Homo sapiens: one gene and its partner. The protein of the gene in region 2 purifies or fractionates together with the protein of the main gene of each other region. This does not show direct contact. Each region holds a gene or a part of one and is shown on either strand. Other genes may lie near its edges.

The links.
Region 1: the proteins of OMD (region 2) and APAF1 purify together in Homo sapiens (affinity purification with mass spectrometry; 2 studies listed by BioGRID and IntAct, with this or other methods). This does not show direct contact.

Annotation. Positions count from the first base shown.
Region 1 is NC_000012.12:98,647,157-98,657,786, reverse strand, and holds part of APAF1 (apoptotic protease-activating factor 1), read right to left. Parts: intron 9,469-10,630; 5' UTR 9,428-9,468; coding exon 9,290-9,427; intron 9,162-9,289; coding exon 8,972-9,161; intron 8,301-8,971; coding exon 8,103-8,300; intron 1-8,102. UniProt on the Homo sapiens protein: Oligomeric Apaf-1 mediates the cytochrome c-dependent autocatalytic activation of pro-caspase-9 (Apaf-3), leading to the activation of caspase-3 and apoptosis. This activation requires ATP. Isoform 6 is less effective in inducing apoptosis.
Region 2 is NC_000009.12:92,414,472-92,421,471, forward strand, and holds part of OMD (osteomodulin precursor), read right to left. Parts: intron 3,104-7,000; 5' UTR 3,088-3,103; coding exon 2,148-3,087; intron 1,007-2,147; coding exon 681-1,006; 3' UTR 1-680.

The DNA of each region.
Region 1 (10,630 bases), on a different chromosome or scaffold from region 2:
TGCCCAAAGTTACACAGCTAATGAAGCAGAGTTGAGATTCAAACTTAAAGTATCAATGTTCAACTTCTACACTATTCTGCATCCACAAGAATATTCACTGCAGCATTGTTTGCAACAGGAAAAAGCTGGAAACAACCCACCTTAACCTACTATCCCATTGCAGGCTTCCAAAGTTTCAGGCAGGCCCAACTGAACCTTATATGTAAATGAAGTTTGGAGTACTGAATAGGACTTGACATATTAATTATGAAAATTAGACTTTTTATAACTTGAAGTGACATGGAGTCTTTGAACCTGCACAAGGTCAAGGAAAGGATCAGTCCCAGAAAAGAGGACGTAAGCAATGGTCTGGATGAAGCCTTGAGGAGCAAATACCTATTCCACTTCCCAGCATAGAGAAAAAAATCGGTTTTCACTCCAGATAAGGAGAGGACTAAAGAGTCAAGAGTATGTGCTAAGAAGCAACTGAATGATGGACAATAAAATGATGGACAATGATGGCTGAAGTCTAGGAGAGGACTGATAGTATGAATAGAGAGGATATTCTGGAATCAATGGATGAGAAGTCTTGGTAAGTCTATAGCATTAAACTTGAATAAAATGGGTGGAGGTGGGTAAAGAGTAGAAGAGAATGCTCAACATCAAGATTTCAAAAGTGCTGTAGTTCTAGTAATGACAAAGATCAGGGTCTAGCCTGTAATCAGGGAAGAGTTAAGAAATGTTCACAGGAGACAAAGAGGTTAAGGAGGTAAGAGGTTAAGGTTTTGGATGACTCATCCACACAGGTATCAAAATCACTAAGAGTGCTAACAGACAAAGAGCATAAGAGGAAGGTTATAATCTACGAACTCCAATCGTCAATGAATGAGACGGTGATTACATCAATAGGAAAGGTTAGAGACATGAACCTCAAAGCATTCAGCTGGAGAAGGGAGTATTAATGGTCTGGATGAGACAACAGAGAGCAAGAACAACGCCCACCCATTTCCTGGTGCTAAAGTATGTAGGATATAAAGGAAAAAAGTTGCCATGTCACTTAAGAAGGTTATGGAGAAGGTAGTAAACTCAGGAAACTGCCCAGTTTCAGATAAGGCAAGACGGCGAATATTCTAAGAAGTTGATGATACAAGAGAGTTTCCTGCTCACAGAGGAGTTCTACAGGGTATGGCAGAAACACATAGGAATGACAGAAGAAGACTTAGATCAGAATTTGGCAATGTACTGAATAGTGACTGCATGAAAGTCTAAAATATAACAAACAACTGGAGACAGAGAACTCTACAGTAACTGAGGTAGAGACAGGGCTGTGAAGCCTGGTTTGATTATCAGTGCCAATGTCTTAGAAGAAGGTAGACAAGCCCTACTGCTTACTCCTAAAGTTTCCTGAGGTCCCCTCAGGCCTCCTTCAGTGTAAGTTTGCAGTTATGAAACAGCAAGTCCTTGAGACTTCACTTAAACTTAAAGCTGTGTTCTGTATGTGTATATATTTATAATTGCAGAGAATAAAGTTTGGAAAAATTTACTCCGAATTGTTAACCAAGATTATCTCTAGGATAAGATTTAGAATTTAGAGCCTGGCACGGTGGCTCCCAGCACTTTGGGAGGCCAAGGTAGACAGACTGCTTGAGCCCAGAATTTCGAGACCAGCCTGAGCAACATGGTGAAACCACGTCCCTAAAAAAATACAAAAAATTAGCCAGGCAAGGCCGGGCGCGGTGGCTCATGCCTGTAATCCCAGCACTTTGGGAGGCCGAGGTGGGCGGATCACAAGGTCAGGAGATCGAAACCATCCTGGCTAACACGGTGAAACCCCGTTTCTACTAAAAATACAAAAAATTAGCTGGGTGTGGTGGCAGGTGCCTGTAATCCCAGCTACTCGGGAGGCTGGGGCAGGAGAATGGTGTGAACCCGGGAGGCCGAGCTTGCAGTGAGCCGAGACCGCGCCACTGCACTCCAACCTGGGCGACAGAGTGAGACTCTGTCTCAAAAAAAAAAAAAAGAAAAATTTTGGCCAGGCAACGTGCTGTGCGCCTGTGGCCCAGCTACTCAGGAGGCTGAGGTGGGAGGATGACCTGAGCCTGGAAAGTTGAGGCTGCAGTGAGCCAGGATCATGCCACTGCACTCCAGCCTAGGTGACAAAGTGAGACTCTGTCTCAAAAATAAAAATAAAAAGATTAAGAATTTAGGAGAAAGCAAAAAGGAACAAGTAAGGAGAACTTTTATTTCTTTTTCTTTTTAAATGAAAATACTACGGCCGCCCCTACTGGGAAGTGAGGAGCCCCTCTGCCCGGCCAGCCGCCCCGTCCGGGAGGGAGGTGGGGGGGTCAGCCCCCTGCCCGGCCGGCCGCCCCGTCCGGGAGGTGAGGGGCGCCTCTGCCCGGCCGCCCCTACTGGGAAGTGAGGAGCCCCTCTGCCCGGCCACCACCCCGTCTGGGAGGTGTGCCCAACAGCTCATTGAGAACGGGCCAGGATGACAATGGCGGCTTTATGGAATAGAAAGGCGGGAAAGGTGGGGAAAAGATTGAGAAATCGGATGGTTGCCGTGTCTGTGTAGAAAGAAGTAGACATGGGAGACTTTTCATTTTGTTCTGCACTAAGAAAAATTCTTCTGCCTTGGGATCCTGTTGATCTGTGACCTTACCCCCAACCCTGTGCTCTCTGAAACATGTGCTGTGTCCACTCAGGGTTAAATGGATTAAGGGCGGTGCAAGATGTGCTTTGTTAAACAGATGCTTGAAGGCAGCATGCTCGTTAAGAGTCATCACCAATCCCTGATCTCAAGTAATCAGGGACACAAACACTGCGGAAGGCCGCAGGGTCCTCTGCCTAGGAAAACCAGAGACCTTTGTTCACTTGTTTATCTGCTGACCTTCCCTCCACTATTGTCCCATGACCCTGCCAAATCCCCCTCTGTGAGAAACACCCAAGAATTATCAATAAAAAAATAAATTAAAAAAAAAAAAAAAAAAAGAAAATACTACTTTAAAAATATTTAAACAAACAAAAACAGACAAATAAACTATCTGTTGCCTTAAGTTTCCATTTTTTTAAATTTGTACTACCTAAAATTTGTAAAAATCGGCCAGGCACAGCAGCTCACACCTGTAATCCCAGAACTTTGGGAGGCCGAGGCGAGGGGATCACTTGGGTCAGGTGTTCGAAACCAACCTGGCCAACATGGTGAAACCCCATCTCTACTAAAAATACAAAAATTAGCCGGGTGTGGTGGCACACACCTGTAGTCCCAGCTACTTGGGAGGCTGAGGCAGGGGGACTGTCAAGAGGCAGAGGTTGCAGTGAGCTGAGATCATTGCACCCCAGCCTGGGCATCAGAATGGGGCTCTGTCTCAAAATAAAATAAAATAAAATAAAATTTGTAAAAATCATCCCAAGATTAAAGGTAAAGAAAGCATCCTGATATGGCTACCTAGTAAATTCTTTCATATTTTAATTTATGTACCTATTACCTAGGGTCAAAGGCCTTTTTCCCTAAATGTATAACTAAAAATTTAGGGCATTTAAATACATGCAAGAAAAGAGAAAACACTACCAGCTTTAAAAAGGCAAACAGACCAAATGACCATCTGATATGTAAATCTCTAACCATCACAATATAACATTTAGTTAAAAACTGAACCATTAATTCCACATTTCAGAAAGAATCTAAACATCTTGACTATGGGCACAAGAGGGAGCAATTTAGCTTTGCATGAGGAGGCTGTATTTACAATTCACTCAGAGAAACTAATTCAGAGAAAAGTTGCCTTTATTCAGGGAAAACTCCACACTACTTTCACAGGAGGCTTATCCTGGTAGCAATTAATAATCTAATAACACAAAGAAATCTTGGAAAGGACAGAAACAAATAGGAACACAGCCTATGAAGAAAGCATCCATGATTAAAAACCAACATACGAATACAGTAATGTAAAATGTCACTACTGTATTTAAAGATACGTCAATTCTTTACTATTTCCCTACAAATAAGAAAAAATTAAAGCATTGAAATTTCAAAAGACAACTGGGTTACTTAAAACTGTATAGACATAAATAGTTAAAAACTATATATATATATATATATATATATATATATATTTTTTTTTTTTTTTTTTTTTTTTTTTTTTTTTTTTGAGACGGCATCTCACTCTGTCACCCAGGATGGAGAGCAGTGGTGCAATCTTGGCTCGCTGCAACCTCTGCCTCCCATGTTCAAGCGATTCTTATGCCTCAGCCACCTGGGTAGCTGGGATTACAGGCATGCGCCACCACGCCCAGCAAATTTTTGTATTTTTAGTAGAGACGGGGTTTCACCATGTTGGCCAGGCTGGTCTCAAACTCCTGACCTCAAATGATCTGTCCACCTCGGCCTCCCAGAGTGCTGGGATTACAGGCACGAGCCACCACACCCAGCTAAAAGTTAACAACTTAATATTCTTTAATTTATGCCAATCACCACCCAAAGAAAACATTTCCATAGGAACCACAATTTTAATCAAATTTAGATCTCTTATATTATCTGTACTTTTAAAAGAAAAGGTTTTGCAATACAATTAAATGTCAAAAATCCAATGTTCCTGTATTTGAGAATGGAAGTGAACTCCAGAGATTAAAATTTATCTTTGGGAAAGCACCTATTCTTGAATTAGTGGACATACAAAGGCAGACTCCAGAGAATAAAGAACTAAATATGAATAATAAGACTGTAATAGGACTACTTGAACAAAACTCAGGAAACACAAGTTAGAAGACAAAAAAAAAAACTGATTAGTTTGACTACATCAGAGTTCTCGTCTACTGAGAACACCCAGGAAAAAAATTAATCAGATGGCAAATTAAAATAAGGTATTTAAAAGTCTAAAACCAGCTGAGCACAGTGGCTCACGCCTGTAATACCAGCACTTTGGGAGGCGAGGCAGGGGGATCACCTGAGGTCGGGAGTTCGAGACCAGCCTGACCAACATGGAGAAACCCCGTCTCTACTAAAAATACAAAATTAGCCAGGCGTGGTGGTGGGTGCCTGTAATCCCAGCTACTCAGAAGGCTGAGGCAGGACAATCGCTTGAACCTGGGAAGCAGAGATTGTGGTGAGCCAAGATCGCGCCATGGCACTCCAGCCTGGGCAACAAGAGCGAAACTCCGTCTCAAAAAAAATAAAATAAAATAAAATAAAAGTCTAAAACCAACAAAGTTTAATGTCTAGAATATATAAGAAACTCCTAAAAAGCAAAAAGAAAAAAAAATTGGAAACCCCAATGGAAAATAGACAAATAATATAAACAAAATCCATAAAAAAAGAAACCCAAAAGGCTAACAACAAGCTTATGAAGAAATGTTCAAACTTGAGTTACCAGAGAAATGCAAAGTAAAAGACACAACTTTATAGAAGTTTGCCTGGCAAAAATTACAAAGCTGGATCATACCAACCGTCACTGCACAAGTAGAATTATCGGAGTCCCCATACTCATCTGGGGGAAATGTACAGACTGGAGGGGAATCAAATTTGGTATTTGTATATCCTATCATTTAGTAATTTTGGCTGGACATGGTGACTTTCATCTGTAACCCCAGCACTTTGGGAGGCCAAGGCGGGAGCATCACTTGAGCCCAGGAGTTTGAGACCAGCCTGGACAAGATAGCAAAAACCTGTCTCTACAAAAAAATGTTTAAAAACACACCAAGCATGGTGGCTTACACCTGCAATTCCAGCACTTTGGGAGGCCAAGGTGGGTGAATTGCTTGAGCTCAGGAGTTCGAGACCAACCTCGGTAACATGACAAAACCCCAACTCTACAAAAAATACAAAAATTAGCTGGGTGTGTCAGCATGCACCTGTGGTCCCAGCTACTCCGGAGGCTGAGGTGGGAAGATCACTTGAGCCCAGAAGGCAGAGGTTGCAGGGAGCCAAGATTGTGCCACTGCACTCCAGCCTGGGTGACAAAGCAAGACCCTGTTTCATAAATAAATAATTAGCCAGGCATGGTGGCGTGTGCACCCAGCTCCTCAGGAGGCTAAGGTGGGAGGATCACTTGAGCCTAAAAGTTTGAGGCTGCAGTGAGCTATGATATGGCCACTGCACTCAGCCTGGGCAACAGGGTGACACTCTGTCTCTTTAAAAAAAAACAAAAATAAATAAATAATTACTAATTTTGCTCCTAGCTACAAATACCCAAGAAATTCTTACTCACATAGAAGTTCAACCCAGCTTTGCTGCAGCAGCAGAGAGTTGGATACAATCTACATATCCATTTACTTAGGGTAATGAGCAGTAAAATGGGTTGGTGGCAATCAGGTGTAACAAATAACATGTATACATAGCAACAAGGATAAATCTTAAAAACATTGTGTCATGGGAGATAAAAAACAGAATAATACCATAACATCTATGCAAATTTAAAATACCTGCATACCAACAACATACATATTTTACAAGAGTACACACTTTACACAGACATTTACAAAGAACATACATTAAATACATTAGGATTGTCCATGGAGAGGGGAAAGGAAATAAGAATAGGAAATTTTGAAATGGAAATAAATAAATACAGTGAAAAGCTCAGCCTAGTACAGATCTACTATAATAAGCCGTGAACTAAGGAATATGAATAACTCAGTCCTCTGAACTTGAGATCCCACAAAAGTACGAGGAATATGAATTAAGCTCACATGTACAGTTGCCAGTATCTCTAGGATTTTCTCAAAACAAAGTAGTTAAAACCTGTTCCAAGATAACAATTTATACAATATGACTCCTGAATATTTAATTCCATAGATTGTTAGTCAATTTTAATCCCTAGAATTGAAAATTCATCACAATAATGTAGAGCAATTTAAATGGGGAGAGGGAGTGTTCTTTTAAACCTATAAATTGGAATATTATAAATACACAAAGAAAGTTCATAATATTGAAAGGAAAACTCATTCCTTCACACTAAAGGAACTTAAGCTAAATTTATCCTGAAATATCCTTAGTGATCAACTTTGCAGTAGGGGCTTAAAAAAATCCTTGGCTCTGAGACTTGAAAGGAGCTAAGTCTCAGGAAACTTCTCTGTAATGATAGAGGGGAAAAACCAAGGGTTAGGAATCAGGCATACTTCTGACAAGAGTATAGTCTATACCACTTACAAAGGCTATGAAATTAAACTGAGGCCATGTGTACACATAGATATACCCTAGCCTCCATATTTCTAAGTCTCTTAGAGGCTTACTACTTATTCCAATCATTCTGTCTAAACTGTCTTAACCGTAGATCATGTTATACATACATATCAAAAAAAAAAAAACAAAAAACTTTTTTTTGAGATGGAGTCTTGCTCTTGTTGACCAGGCTGGAGTGCAGTGGTGCGATCTCAGCTCACTGCAACCTCCGCCTCCTAGGTTCAAGTGATTCTCCTGCCTCAGCCTCCCGAGTAGCTGGGATTACAGGTGCTCACCACCACACCCAGCTGATTTTTTTTGTATTTTTGGTAGAGACGGGATTTCACCATGTTGCCCAGGCTGGTCTTGAACTCCTGACCTCAGGTGATCCACGCCTCAGCTGGGATTACAAGCATGAGCCACCGTGCCTGGCCTACTAAAAAAAAAATTATTAACTACTAGAAGTTGGGAACTGTCTTTGAATTCCCCTAGAAGTGTCATACAGAGAGAACACACTGATGAATGAGAACACACTGATGAATGGGGGCAGCCTAGAACTGATGGAGCTATACAACTATTCCTGATGAATACCCTGAGAACCTACCAGGATCGCTAAGGTCAGTGGTATACCTGCCAACATTTCTTAAACCCTCTTCTACCCAGTATGCCCTTCCCCACCCCAGTAACCACCCACTACCTTTCCCACCTTCCCTAGTCTCCCATCCCTACCTTCACTGCCTAGCTAACTTTTATTCTTTCTCCAAACTCCTGCTAAGATGTCATCTCATTCAGGAAGCTTGTCCTATCCATCCCCTCCCTTCAGAGAGTTAACATATCCTTCCTTTGTTCTAACTCTGTACCTTATACTTGTTTCTACCATTCAATTTATCACGTATTGATATATCATAATATTTTTACATGTCTATCTACCTTACTAGACTATGAAATGGACTAAGACACTTACCTTCTAAAAGGGAATGATCTCTAACAGCTTCTGCAGCTAATACAGACTTCCCACAGCCTGCCATTCCATGTATGGTGACCCATCCTGGTTCACCTTTCAATTTGGAGAGCTTCTGCTGAATTGCATTCACCAGCTTCTTCCTTGTGACAAAAACAACTGGCCTCTGTGGTACTCCACCTTCACACAGGACTGTCCTTACTAAAATCCAAAACAAAACAAGCATGAATGAATAGAACTTTGGAATAATTACTGAAGTAATACCATAAAAAACAAAGAGCAAAGCTGAGGCTTAGCCTGAAAATTTCCAAGAGAAGTTAAGAAAATGTGGCTAGCATATTAACTTCAATTTTCTGATTTCTCAGACAACAGAGAGCAAAGACAAACATATATCCTTCAAGATGACTAAAGAAAATGGAAGTTTCTATCTATATCTGCTTTACTCACCCAATTATTTCCTGACTTTTCATTCCCTCTCATATTGAAGACTGGGAAGGCAAGTGTAAAAGGAAGAACATTTATGGAATACCTTTCAAGAACATATATTTCTAAAGATTCTTATTTTTTCCTATAAACTCTATAAACACATAGAACTGGAAAATAAACAAGGGCCTATAAATTGTCTTATTGTCTCTAAAAATTAGGGTAGACATATTATTATCTCAGCAGTACAGTTCACTGGGCAAGAAGAAAAGTTGAGAGTTAATGTGGATGCAAATAAAAAATATTTAAATTGAAAACATCACTACAATTTTTTTAACATGCAGTTTTCAGTGAACTGGTCACACTCTCTTCAAAAGATTACATCTACAATAAGACAAACCCAAAGCAATTTTGATAGCAAAGTGATAGAAGGTATAATGGATACAAACCATACGAAGTTATTCCACTAACTGAATCTTTACCACTGGAAGAAGAGACAACAGGAATGCCATCATGGAGAAGGGCAGCAAGATCTTTATATCCTTCATGTAGTAGAGCATTGTAGAATGATACGTAGGAATCATTATCTTTTTTAAGTATCATTTTAATCAGCATAGCTGCTCTTTGCTGTTGAGTGGGCTAAAAAAAATTAAGTAGTTTAGTATACAACAATGAATATGTATGCAACATAAAGTAGTGGAGACCAGTACAAGTTCTGAAATTCTAAAAATTTTTAAGGAAGTGTGGACTGCTTCAGAGAGCTTTACCTCATTTCTTACTTTTTCCTCTTCTGATATTGTTAAAAATCCATCACTAATCATGTGATCCATGATGTAGGATGTCTTGATGTCCTTTTCCAGAGCTTCTCTATGTTGAAGCAAACAATTTCGAGCTTTTGCATCCATCTTCCCTCAGATCTTTCTCTCTCTGAGCTGTCAACCATGAGCTACAGCCAAAACACCAAAATATTTGTCAGGCCAATAAAAATATGAAAAGATACATAATCTCACTAATAAACAAGAAACGTAAAAAGAACAAAACTGATTTTTTTTCCTTGGCAAAAATTTTTAAATGGACAAAACCCAGTGCTTGGAAAGGTATGAGAAAATGGCCATTCTTATGCACTAATTGGGGAAACTAGAAAATGAATGCAATTTTTCTGGAAAGCAGTAAGATATGGAATTGTTTAAAATAAGCTTTCTCTCTAACCCAGAAATCCCATTTCTAAGGATTTACTTCAAGGAGACATTCAAATACATATGTAAAAATATCCACAAGGAGAATTAATGAGTTTCCAATCAGGTGTGGTAGCTCAAGCCTATAATCCCAGCACATTGGGAGGCTAGAGTAAAAAATAAAAAGAAAAAAGAATTAATGGAGGATGTTTCAGTGATGAACGCAACCTAAATGTCCATCATTCTGAATATAGATTTTAAAAATTAGGGTATGTATATAAAATGGAATATTATGCAGCCATTCAAAATTATGACACATATCTCCATGTATTGACATGGAAAGATGTTCATAATACTGTTGCTGAAAAAAAAAAAAAAAAAAAACAGAAACATGATCCCACATACAACACATAACGTGGGGGCCGGGCGCAGTGGCTCATGCCTGTAATCCCAGCACTTTGGGAGGCCGAGGCGGGTGGATCACGAGGTCAGGAATTCAAGACCAGCCTGGCCAAGATGGTGAAACCCTGTCTCTACTAAAAATACAAAATTAGCCAGATGCAGTGGCAGGTGCCTGTAATCCCAGCTGCTCGGGAGGCTGAAGCAAGAGAACTGCTTGAACCAGGGCGGCAGAGGTTGCAGTGAGCCGAGACCACTCTACTGTACTCCAGCCTGGGCGACAGACTGAGACTCTGTCTCAAAAAAAAAAACAAGTGTTGGTATCATATGAATATATATAGACGTTTAGAAGTTTATTCATCGAAATGTTTGAGTTACTTCTGAGTAGCAAAATTTGGGATTTCTCCCCCACCTTGTCTTATTTTTTTTTTTTTTTTAGTACAGACGGGGTTTCACCATGTTGACCAGGCTGGTCTTGAATTCCTGACCTCAGGTGATCCACCCGCCACAGCCTCCGAAAGTGCTGGGATTACA
Region 2 (7,000 bases):
GTCCAAATACAGCTTTATAATTTTGTTGTTTTGGTATTCTGAGGCAAAAAGATTAGTTAATTTTGTGAATCTGTATGCCTTGGGTCCTTAGTACCTGGATGGCCTCTTACAAATCAAAAATATCATTCTATGTGCTATGTGGTGAGCTAGGGGGATGGATGTCATAATGGTGAGATCACAAATACCAGTGTGAAAGCTTTCCTGAAGAAGAGGTCAGAGAAAATGGTCTATTCCTTAAATGAATGCTTGTTACATTAATATACCTTCCTGTCATTTAAATATTGTCCTCAGAGTGATCAAAAAGGTCATGGCCTGTGGGTCTTTACTGCTAATGCTACTTCCTTCCTCATTTTTAGAAAAATTACTGTTAATAGAAATGATACACTCACTTTCTTTAACATGATATTTCTATATTTAAAAAGAGCATAAGAAACCATTAACGTTTAATTTATGATTCCCACTTGTCATTCTAATTTATATTTTTAAAGATTTACATTATTTTGAGTAAGTTCTAATCCTATGAAATGATGCAGATGTCACCAACAACTTAAATTCAATTCTGATCTTATACTAATACATAATTCTAAATATATTACTTTGAGTAATACATGTTTACTTAGATTTACTATATTAAGTATAGGTTTTGTGAAGTCGTAAGTGTATACCTATATAGTTTCTTGCTATTCTTGATTTTCATAATAATGAAGGTCAAAGTGCCCTTCTGCTCCTTCTTGTTCTGGGCTCTCATGAGCATTGTCAGGATCATCGTGATCTTCACTTTCATCATCATCATCTGGAAATCTCCTGAAAACTTGTGTCTTTAGTTGTATTGTTTGACCATTAGTGCTTCGTTGTTCACCATAATAAATAGTGTGTATATGAGGGAAGCAGAAGAAGATGTATGAGCTTATTGGTTCTTTTAGTTTATTTTGGTCCACACGAATGTATGTTAAATGGTGGTAATGTAGTGGGTCAATAGAAGGACACATCACTGTAAGATTCATCTCTGAAAGAAATAAATTAAAAATTAATCTTGTATTATAGTATAATCCATAGTTATAGCCATAATTCTATGTTAGATTTTATATTGTATGGGATATAATTCTGTTAATTAAAATATTTATAAATTGAATTAGGTTTCCTTTTTATATTAATCAAATAATAAAAAGAAAATTAAATTATGAGTTTTATATTAACAAAATATATATGGCTTCATTGGCTTTTCTGATTAATAAATTCCTAGTAGAACAATCTCAAAAAAAAATTATCTACAATCCCACTACTTAGGATACTCATATTTCTTCATGTACTCTATTATTTCTCTCTTTTATATATATACATATATAAAACTGACAATTTATACATATATATAAAAAAATATATATATATAAAATTATATATTTCTTCTTTTTTTCTTTTTTTTTTTCCTGTTGCAAGGAGAAAAGGAAACATTGTGGAGAAAGTGAGTAAACTCAGAATACGCTCTGTATAAATTGTCAGTTATATATATATGTATAAATTATCAGTTATATATATAAAAGAGAATATATATTTTTTATATATAAATAAATATATTATATATGTGTGTATATATATATATTTATTTATTTATTTATTTATTTATTTATTTTATTTTTTTTTTTTTTAAGACAGAGTTTTGCTCTGTCATCCAGGCCAGAAAGCAGTGGCATGATCTCAGCTCACTGCAACCTCCGATTCCTGGGTTCAAGCAACTCTCATGCCTCGGCCTCTTAAGTAGCTGGGAGTACAGGCACATGCCACCATGCCTGGCTAATTTTTCTATTTTTGGTAGAGATGGGACTTCACTATATTGACCAGGCTGATCTCGAACTCCTGGCCTCAAGTGATCCACCCCACCCGCCTTAGCCTCCCAAAGTGCTCTGATTACAGGCATGAGCCACCACGCCCAGCCTATTTCTCAATATTTAAGGCAATAAAATTTAATAAAAAGGACTATAAACTGAATAGCACACATTTCTCTGGGGCAGATTTCTGCCATTCCCTTAAGCAACTTCAAAACAACTATTTTCAGCAATGTCTAAAGCATAGCTTATTGAATATTTTTTTCTTTAAAAGATCAGGATTCCATTCTTTCTCTCTTCAAAACACAATAAAAGTCTACATACTTTCTATTTCATTATTTTGTAGGTATAGGTGTTCCAAATTTCTTGGAATATAGAATGCTTGCTTCAATTTGTTGTGTCCAACACTGAGTTCTACAATGTTGGGAAGATTAAAAATATTATATGGGATGTCTTGTAGTTTGTTGTGTGACATTCTTAGAGTATGAAGTTTTGGAAGTTTGTCGAAGTATTTTTCGGGTATAGAAGAAATTGAATTATTTTCTAAAGACAGATACATAAGTGAAGAAGGCAAACCAGGAGGCATTGATTCTAATCTGTTACTGCAGAGGTTGAGCTGCATTAGTTTTTCCATTTTGGCAAAGATTTTGTCTTTTAGCAGAGAATCATGAAGATAATTATAACAGAGATCAAGCATGGTCAAGTTTACTAGCCCATCCATAGCATTTGTCTGCAGTTTGGAGATTTCATTGTAACCAAGAAGGAGTCTTTCCAGAGATTTAGGAAGAGGAAATGGAAATTCTTCTAAATTATTATGCTCTAGATGAAGTTGTAGTAGATTTGGAAGCTTAGCAAACACACCATAATCAATCTTTTGAGATTTAATTTTGTTGTGGCTGAGGTTAATTTCTTTAAGATGAGTTGCATTGATGAATGAATTTGCAGTCACAGCCTCAATTTCATTGAACTGAAGGTAGAGTTGCTGAATGTGCATCGGAATATTTGGGATAGTCTTGAGTTTGCGATTATCACAGTACATTGATGATGGAAAGTTAGTTGGACAGAAGCATTCACTGACACAGCCTAAAGTATACTGATGAAAAGGAACTCCGTAGTCTACATTTTGACGAAATGGGAATCCTGTTTGGTAATCATCATCTGGCTCTTGGTCATAGTCTTCATCCCACTGATAAGTTTCATATTGGCAATGTACTTTGACTCCAAAAAAGAAGAAAATAACATATATTGGACTTAAAAAACCCATCTTCTTTTTTTTTTTCCTATTGCAAGGAGAAAAGGAAACATTGTGGAGAAAGTGAGTAAACTCAGAATACGCTTTGTATAAATTCTCAGTTATATGAAATGTATTATACCTATGTCTATATATAAAAGAATATCCAGAAAGAATGGGCAGTGCTCAAACCAAAATTTTTTTCTTTTTTTGTGACAGTGTCTCCTCTGTCACCCAGGCTGGAGTGCAGTGGCACAATCTCGGCTCACTGCAACTTCTGCCTCCCAGGCTCCCAGGTTCAAGCAATTCTCATGCCTCAGCCTCCCAAGTAGCTGGGACTACAGGTGCATGCCACTATGCCCAGCTTATTTTTGTATTTTTTAGTAGAGACAAGGTTTCGTTGTGTTGCCCAAGCTGGTCTCAAACTCCTGACCTCAAGGGATCCTCTGGCCTCGGCCTCCCAAAGTGCTGGGATTACAGGTGTGAGCCACCACGCCTGGCCTCAAACCAAAATTAATGTTTAAGTACAAATGAAGTGAGTTTTTTTTCTTTTTTCTTTTTCTTTTTCTTTTTATTTTTGAGATGGAGTCTTGCCTTGTCACCCAGGGTGGAGTGTAGTGGTGCAGGCTTGGCTCACTGCAGCCTCCACCTCCCCGGTTCAAGTGATTCTCCTGCCTCAGCCTCCCAAGTATCTGGGACTACAGGCGCGTGCCACCACGCTTGGCTAATTTTTGTATTGTTAGTAGAGACGGGGTTTCTCCATCTTGGCCAGGCTGGTCTCTAACTCCTGACCTCAGGTGATCCACCCACCTCAGCCTCTCAAAGTGCTGGGATTACAGGCGTGAGCCACTGCGCCTGGCCGAGATTTTTTTTTTTTTTAAGTCACATATTACACTGAACTTGAGTCAAAAGTCTGGTATACTAGACTTTCTACTAAGTAACCATCTTTTAAGAGTCCCAGTTTCTCTTGCTTACTAGGGTATAGATCTATGATAATAGCATGACATCAGTCAACTACAGTCTGATCCCTCCACTGTAAATGCTGTGTGTTCTTTGGAATTACCTGATCCTTTAATGATGGTCACTGCCTGGGGGAGGAAAGACCTTTATTTTAGTTAGAGAGCTTTTGCCTGGGAGATTCTACAACTTCTATTTGCTGATACCTTTTTCTGCCCTTCAGAAGAACGTGAAATGCTCCCTTTTGTGTGATAACTTCAGATATTTAGAAATAGTATTCATGTTTCCTTTTAATATTTTCTGTCCAAAACTAACAGCACCATCAAATTTTCCTCATGAAACAGTTTCCAGAATCCAATTATTTAGTCTCCGACTCTGCTTGAATAACTACTTTAAATCCTAAAGACATACAGTGTTTACATTCTACAAAGTTCAAGTGTCTTTACATTTTTCTTCCTAGCTTCCTTTTTTCCATTAATATATTTAAGTTTTAGATACAAAAATATTATTAAAAACACACTGTCCTTGTCTCCCAGGTGTTTAAAGTCTTGTGGAGAATCAAATACACGTGCAGTAGAATGCAGGAGGAGGATATTGTGTGGAAAAGAATTGCAAAAGGGCACACTTCACAATGAACACTCAGTGCTGAAACTTGAAGTTCTAGGGAAGGGTCAATTATGTCCCAGATGAGAAGCCTGAAACCTATATTTCATTTCTGTCACTTAACATATCTGCCTCTTGCCTCATCAATAAAATAAGAATTGCAATTATAGCTGAATTATACCTTGGCTGCTTATCTTGTATGTTGCCTTGTGTCTTTTTTTTTTTTTTTTTTTGAGATGGAGTCTTGCTCTGTTGCCCAGACTGGAGTGCAGTGGTGCGATCTCGGCTCACTGCAGCCACCACCTCCTGGGTTTAAGCAATTCTCCTGCCTCAGCCTCCCCAGTAGCTGGGATTACAGGTGCACTCCACCACACCCGGCTAATTTTTGTATTTTTAGTAGAGATGGAGTTTCACCATGTTGACCAGGCTGCTCTCGAACTCCTGACCTCATGATCCACCCACCTTGGGCTCCCAAAGTGCTGGGATTACGGGCGTGAGCCACTGCATCCAGCCTCCTTGTGTCATATCTTGCCTGCTTATCCGCCTGGTCGTTGTTAGCATTGTATGAGCTATGCATGTACAAGTACTTTGCACGTTGAAAACTGCTATCCAGATGAAATGAATGTATCATTTAGGAAAAAGGTTTTAAAAAATCCTACCTCTTTTATTCTGAGACCTTTCTACTTTTCCCACCCAGGGTTTCATGAGAGAATGAGTTTCCAAACAAATCATTGCATATAATGAAATGACTTATCTCCTGTTCATGTAGAATGGTTCTAGCTATTTTTCATCATTGGTATAATTGAGAGAATAGTTACTTAAGTTATTTTCTTTGACAGAACCCCATTTGAGAAAGGTTAAGAAACATCTCAATTTCTTCTTCTTTTCTTGTCAGAAATTATAAATGTAACTATTGTGTGTATTTGGAATTTGAAGTAGTTATTCAGGTAGAGTCAGAGACCCTTGAGCTCTCTTCCTGCAGTGATACTTTCCTTCATTCTTCCTCACCATTTGCTCCCATGCACCCGCATCCTGGGTTTTGTCTTTTCTATTACTGGAACCCTTCATACTCTTCATTTTGAGTATTCCGCACTCAGACCACTATCTCTATGTAGTAACTCCAGCTGCAATAATTCTCCAATTTCCGTGGAACCTCAGCTATATTGATTCTACTGTTTTTCACTGTCCCTCATCCATACCTCCCAACATTGTCAGTTCCTTCTTACCAACTTAGACCCCATAGTTGATCACTATCGTTGCTCTTTTGCACATGCCCTAAACTTTCTGGCTCCTTCAATCTGCCAAACTCCAACTCTGGTTACTCCAATTCTCTACCTACTCACAGCCTGACTGTCACAGCTGAATGTAACTAAAGAAAAACAGGAGCATGGTGACTGGTCTCACTCTCGATTCAAGACCACTAACCTCAAGTGCTGTCCTGCTGCATTTCCTTAGACCATCCTCCTTCCCTCTCTTCTACGCTACTGTTTTGTAACTTTCCTCTCTGAAGCCTCTAATACCTTATTCCCCATTATTGTTTTTGGGTGATGACCTTGCTTCTTTTTTTTAAGTCAAGAAAATAGGATCAAGATATCATTTATTTCTATTTTCTTATATGTATCCCTACCTACAAGAAAATGCCAAAATAGCAATGGTTTGGGTTTTGTTTTTGTTTTTTTTTTAACAATATGTGCTTTTGAAATTCATGATGTTTCTTTGTGCAACTCTATATTACATCCATTTTTCTTTCTTTTCTGTGAGATTCGTGGAAGATGTGGCATTTGACCTAGACTTTGAAGGAGTGTTGAGGTTCTCATAGAGGGAAGTGAGGAAGAAGATCTCTGGCTAGAAGAGATGAGCAAAAACATAGAAGCAACAGATGGTGATGTGTTTGGGAAATGTGGTTGGTTAACTCTTGAAGGAGCAAAATAAGACTATTAAATCCAGATCTGAAGGGATTAGCCTAACTTTTTTTTTCTGAGACAGTCTCACTCTGTCACCCAGGCTGGAGCGCAGTGGTGCACTCTTGGCTCACCCTCCATCTCCTGGGCTCAAGTGACTCTCTTACTTCAGCCTCCTGAGTAGCTGGGATTACAGATGCGTGCCACCACACCTGGCTAATTTTTTAATTTTTTGTAAAGACAGGGTTTTGCCATGTTGCTCAGGCTGGTCATGAACTTCTGGGCTCAACCAGTCTGCCCCCCTCAGCCTCCCAAAGTGCTGGGATTACAGGCATGAGCCACCACCCCCGGCCTTGGAGGGCCTAAATTCTGACCTGAGGAATTTGCACTCTGGGAATGAATGCCTAATTTAATGAATTAACATATTTGGGCTGTGATTTCACACTACAGTCAGTGTTCGTGGGTGAAAAAGTAGAGAATCTTGG